Regions from separate parts of the Homo sapiens genome. Here region 1 is linked to region 2. The links come from fine-mapping of genetic effects on gene expression. Tissue or cell type: whole blood. Region 2 holds a variant in brackets; the other region holds the start of a gene. All regions are shown on one strand. Distances are between the middles of the regions.

Region 1 (2,919 bases), 260 kb before region 2:
CTTGAGACGGGAGTTTGAGACCAGCCTGGGCAACATAAGGAGACCCTGTCTCTACTAAAAATACAAAAATTAGCTGGGTCTGATGACGCGAGCCTGTGGTCCCAGCTGCTCGGGTGGCTGGGGTGGGAAAATCGCTTGAGCCCGGGAGGCAAAGCTTCCAGTGATCTGAAATTGCGCCACTGCACTCCAGTCTGGTCGACAGTGAGACCCTGTCTCAAAAAAAAAAAAAAAAAAAAGAAAGAAGAAAAGAAAGAGAAAGAGAAAGGTGGCCTACGAAAAGAATGGTTGGATGCTTAGTAATGGGGGAAGCTTTATTATTTTTTCAATTATTTTTAAGACAGGAGGAGACAAATTCTGACAAGAATTGAGCTAATAGAAAGAGAGGGGTTAAAAATGCAAGAGGATATTGGATGGAGTTGGGATCCTGAGAAGGCAGGATCCAGTGGTTAAGTAAAAGGATTGCAGGATTGCGTTTAAGCCTGTGGATGGACACCTCTTTGCATTATTATAGGAAGAAGAAAAAGAGTGAATGGACGATGACGAAGTAGAGAAGTGTCTGAGGCTGCTACTTCTAGGAATAGCAGAATTCAAAGTTATCTGTTATGAGAATCAAATGAGTTAAAACATACAAAGTTTTAGCATGTAAAGTTAATACATAAAGTTTTATTTAGTTTATAATTTAGTGATTCGTAAAATTATTGAGCAAATTTAACTTATCACTGTTATATGATGATCGTGACATACTTAACTCATGTAGAAGACCAGGAATAACCTGTTTTAATTATGTTTCATTCATTTCAAACACAAGGTTATGGATTGGAAACACTCCTGTTCTTCTTTGTTGTTGTTGTTGTTGTTGTTGTTTTTAGAGACGGAGTCTCGCTTTGTCACCCAGGCTGGAGTGCAGTGGCGCGATCTCGGCTCACTACAACCCCCGCCTCCTGGGTTCAAGTGATTCTCCTGCCTCAGCCTCCGGAGTAGCTGGGATTACAGGCGTGCGCCACCATGCCCGGCTAATTTTTGTATTTTTAGTAGAGACAGGGTTTCACCATGTCAGCCAGGCTGATCTCAAACTCCTCACCTCAAGTAATCCGCCTGCCTCGGCCTCCCAAAGTGCTGGGATTACAGGCGTGAGCCACCGCGCCTGGCCTTCTGTTCTTCTTTGGATTGCTTTTCCTACAGTTTTTGTTTTCCTTAAGTTGGGGTTTCATTCTGTCGCCCGCTGGACTTTGATAACAGTAGGAATGTACATCTCAGACAAAATGCAGATGCCTAAAGTACATCTGAAAGATGATGTGAATAATTCCTGTAGTCTATGCAAATAAAGAAATAATTGCCCTTATTAAAGATTTCCTATAAGGTGAGTACTTTATTTCAGTAGCTCTTAACTTAGAAAGTTGGGAGCCTAGCTTGGTCCACAGGCGCCCAGGAGAGAGGGGCGGGAGGAAGGCTCTGCAGCCCGAGGGGGCGTGTGTAGGGGCGGGGCTGCGGGCGGAGGAGCGCGGACGCTCCGGGTATCGCGAGAGTTGGGCGGGCCGAGCAATCGCAGCAGTCTATTCCCTCACTCTCCCTGGAGGAGCCGCTGGCCCTGGACTCTCCAAATTCTGAGCTCTCATCATGGCGGCGGCGGCCGCGGCGGCCGTCGGGGGCCAGCAGCCGTCACAGCCCGAGCTGCCCGCGCCGGGGCTGGCCCTAGACAAGGCGGCCACCGCCGCGCACCTCAAGGCGGCCCTCAGCCGGCCGGACAACCGCGCAGGTGCTGAGGAGCTGCAGGCGCTGCTGGAGCGGGTGCTGAGCGCCGAGCGGCCGCTGGCCGCGGCTGCCGGCGGCGAGGACGCGGCGGCGGCCGGAGGCGGGGGCGGTCCGGGGGCGGCCGAGGAGGAGGCCCTGGAGTGGTGTAAGTGCCTTCTGGCGGGCGGCGGCGGCTACGACGAGTTCTGCGCGGCGGTGCGGGCCTACGATCCCGCGGCGCTCTGCGGCCTGGTCTGGACAGCCAACTTCGTGGCCTACCGCTGCCGGACGTGCGGCATCTCGCCCTGCATGTCGCTGTGCGCCGAGTGCTTCCACCAGGGCGACCACACCGGACACGACTTCAACATGTTCCGCAGCCAGGCCGGGGGCGCCTGCGACTGCGGGGACAGCAACGTGATGCGGGAGAGCGGGTGAGTGGAGCCCTCCCCGCGGGCGAGGCGACCCTGGGCCGGGGACGTCGCGGGAGGGCCTGGAGCGGAGCACTGGGAGCCCACTCTGAGCTGTCAAGGGGAGGGTGCGGGGGAGGGTGCAGCCACAGGGGGATGGAGGTGACTGAGCTGTCAGCGGTGGAAAGGGGGTGGGGAGGAGAAGGAGGGGAGAGGAGAGCGGAGAGCATGTTTAGGAAACCGGGCTGTGAATTTTGGGGAAGCCAGGGTGGGTAAATGATAGCGAGAAAAGAGCCAGTGTATGGGGTAGGAGGGGAGTGAGGGGAAATGATTTTTGGGGAAGCTCGTGTCGAGCTGTCAAGTGTGTACTTGTTGGGAAAGGCTGTAAAGCCTGGTTCTTGGGAAGAGACTTAGGTTGTGATTTGGATTGGCTGGGAGGGGATGTTATTGGGGACCGTATTGGCTCGCGGGATGATGAGAGCTGGGGAGGTGGTCTTGTACGTGCAGGGAAGGACGCTTGAGGAAAAGGTCTTCTGAACTGCCAGTGTGTCTGTCACTGTGAGAGAAGGAGCTCTTGAGGGTTGAGGGAGGAGGGAAGGGGAGGGGCCTGCATGAAAAGTGACTGTTGAGCTGTCAGTGGATTATTTGGTATGCTGGAATGACATTTAGAATTGGGCTACTGAGCAGTCAGTTACAGAATACCCTCCATACCAGGAGAACAAACAAAATACTGAGCGAACCAGGAATCAAGTGTTAGGTCTTCTCCAGTTAAGGGCACTTT
Region 2 (2,919 bases):
TTTTCAGAAGTGATGAATGACATTGAACCATAAATTCAGGAAGTTCAAAAGATCACAAATAGGATAAATGGAAAATAATCCATACCTAGAGAAATAATAGTGAAACTGCAATGAATAAAAAGTATCTTAAAAACTGCTCAGTGGAAAAAGGATGGATTACCTCAAAAGGCCTCTGTCTTCTTAACAGTAACATTGGAAACAGAGCAATAGAAAAATATCCTCAAAATGTGGAAAGAAAATAACTCTTAACTGAAGATCCTCTACACAACAAATACTCTTCAAAAATGATAGCAAAATAAAGACATTAAAATAAAGATGGAGAGAATGTAACAGCAGCATAACCACACTAAGGAAGGAAAACACAAAAAGAGTTTTTGGGCAGAAGGAAAATAAGCCCTGCTGGAAGATTAAATTTTGGCAAGAAAATAAAAATTGTGAATATATGTATAGTATAACTAAATGAACACTTTCTGCATAAAATGATTATGATACTGCATTATATGGGATTTCAGTATGTATGTATGTTGGTGTTTAACAGAAATGTAATAAGACGGGGATAGATGTTCCAAAGTCCTTGCATTATCTCAGAAAATGGTGAAGGTTAATATTATACTTAGGACATAGTTTTAAGTCCTTGTTGCCTTAGATTAGGCAATCATTTCTTAGATATAACATCTAAAGCAGGGAGTCCCTAACCTCTGGGCCACGGACCCATACCAGTCCAAGGCCTGTTAGGAACCAGGCTGCACAGCAGGAGGTGAGTGGCTGTGAACAAAACTTCATCTGTATTTACAGCCACTCCCCATGGCACCCATTACTGCCTGATCGCCGCTTCCTGTCAGATCAGTGGTGGCAGCAGATTCTCATAGGAGTGTGAACCCTATTGTGAACTAGCATGTGAGGGATTTAGGTTGCTTGCTGCTTATGAGAATCTAATGCCTGATGATCTGTCACTGTTTCCCATCACCCCCAGATGGGGCTATCTAGTTGCAGGAAAACAAGCTCAGGGCTTCCACTGATTCCACATTATGGTGAGTTGAATAATTATTTCATGATATATTAGAATGTAATAATAGAAATAAAGTACACAATAAATGTAATTGCTTGCATTATCCAGAAACCATGCCCTCGCTCCAACCCCCCAGTCTGAAAAAACTGTTTACCACAAAACCAGGCTCTGGCACCAAAAAGTTTGGGAACCACTAATCTACAAAACACAAGCAATTCCCCACCCTTCAAAAGGAAAAATTTGACTTCACCAAAATTTGAAACTTTTGTGCTTCAAAGGACACTATCAAGAAAATGAAAAAACAACCCACAGAATGGGAGAAAATATTTTCAAATCATATATTTGCTAAGCCTTAATGTCCAAAATAAAGAACTCCTATCAACAATAAAAGGACAACCCACTTAAACAATAGGCCAAGGACTTGAATGCTTTGATCTAAGGAAGATATACAGAAGGCAAATAAGCACATGAAAAGATTTCAACATCATTCATCATGACGGAAATGGAAATCAAAACCATCATGGAATACCACTTCACACCCACTAGGATGGCTTTAATGAAAAACATGAACAGTAAGTGTTGAGGAGGATGTAGAGAAATTAGACTCTCCTACATTGCTGGTAGGTATGTGAAAGGATGCTGTGTTCCCTCAAAAAGTTAAACAAAATTGCCACATGACCCAGCAATTCCACTCTTGGCTCTTTACCCAAGAGAATGAAAAAATATGTTCACACAAAACTTGCACACAAATGAT[T/G]ACACAGCATTATTCATAATAGTGAAAAATGTCTGCCAACCAATGAATAAGCAAAGGGTGGTATATCTGCATGGTGGAATATTATTCAACCATAAAAGGAATGAAGTACTGATACATGTTACAACATGGACGGACCTTAAAAACATGCTGAGTGAAAGAAGCCAGACACAAAGGCTACAAAAAAGGCCATTTATATGACATATCCAGGATAGGCATCTTTATACAGACAGAAAGTAGATTCGTGGTTGCCGGGGGCTGGGGGAAGGGAAATACAGAATAACTGCTAATAGGGATGGAGTTTCTTTGTGGTGAGTTGAAAACATTCTGGAATTAAAAAGTGATCATGGTTGCACAACGTTGTGAATGTGATAAACACCAGTCAGTTATGCACTTTAAAGAATACATTTTGTAGTATGTAATTGTACCTCAAAAAATAAAGTGACAATCATATACACTCAAAGTAGCAATGCATATTACAGTTATTTAGCCTACATTTTGACAAATTCTGTGACAAGGTGGGAAAAATATATAGTCATTAGAGATGGGTATAGGTCTGGGTTCAAATCCAGTCCACCCCTTAATGGCTGTGTGTTCCTGGGAAAATCTCACTGAAATCAGTTTTCTCCTCTGCATAATGGAGATAATAGTTCACTTGAAGTTTGTGGTGAGGATAGCTGTAATGTGTAAAAAGATACTTGTAAAGATCCAGAACAGCTGGATCCTTTGAAATGACAAACCCAAACCAAAAAATATTTCAAAAAGACTGATATAATAGCTGACAATCTCTACAATAAGCTCATAAAATATTGAATTTATTTGTAAATATATGGTATTTGCAGAAAGAAAAGAAGTAGTGGTCTGAACATGGGAGATCTGGAGATCCTTCAAAAGAAAACTGAAGAGGCTGACTTAGACTTAAGTTCTTCAGGAAGAGAGACTGCGCTACTCACCTTCTTAGCCCCATTGCATTTTACTTCACCTGATATATGGACATGTTTCATACATGTTAATGAAAGAAGAAGAGTAATATTATACCTTGGAAAGTTGATTTCTAGGGTAGGTTTTTTGAAAATTTTTCAGATAGAGTATAAAGAGGGTAAAACTTCCAAACTAATGTGGGAGTGGATAATGCAATAATAAAAAGCAATCTAAAATA

What was found. PIP is the estimated chance that this variant, and not a neighbour inherited with it, causes the effect. A credible set is the group of variants that fine-mapping cannot tell apart.
Region 1: UBR3 starts here. The variant in region 2 is the best candidate, but not a certain one, in a credible set for the expression of UBR3 in whole blood (INTERVAL, PIP 0.65).

Annotation. Positions count from the first base shown.
Region 1 is chr2:169,825,891-169,828,809 of GRCh38, forward strand. It overlaps UBR3 (ubiquitin protein ligase E3 component n-recognin 3), which reads left to right and starts at 1,564. Exons shown (of 39, transcript NM_172070.4): 1 at 1,564-2,162. The coding sequence starts at 1,618. RefSeq lists silencers at 1,358-1,917, 2,178-2,307.
Region 2 is chr2:170,090,871-170,093,789 of GRCh38, forward strand. No RefSeq gene overlaps it. Among named protein-coding and RNA genes, the nearest start is that of MYO3B, 86 kb to the right of the region's middle. RefSeq lists an enhancer at 525-1,092. The variant T/G (reference allele first, on the strand shown) is at 1,764.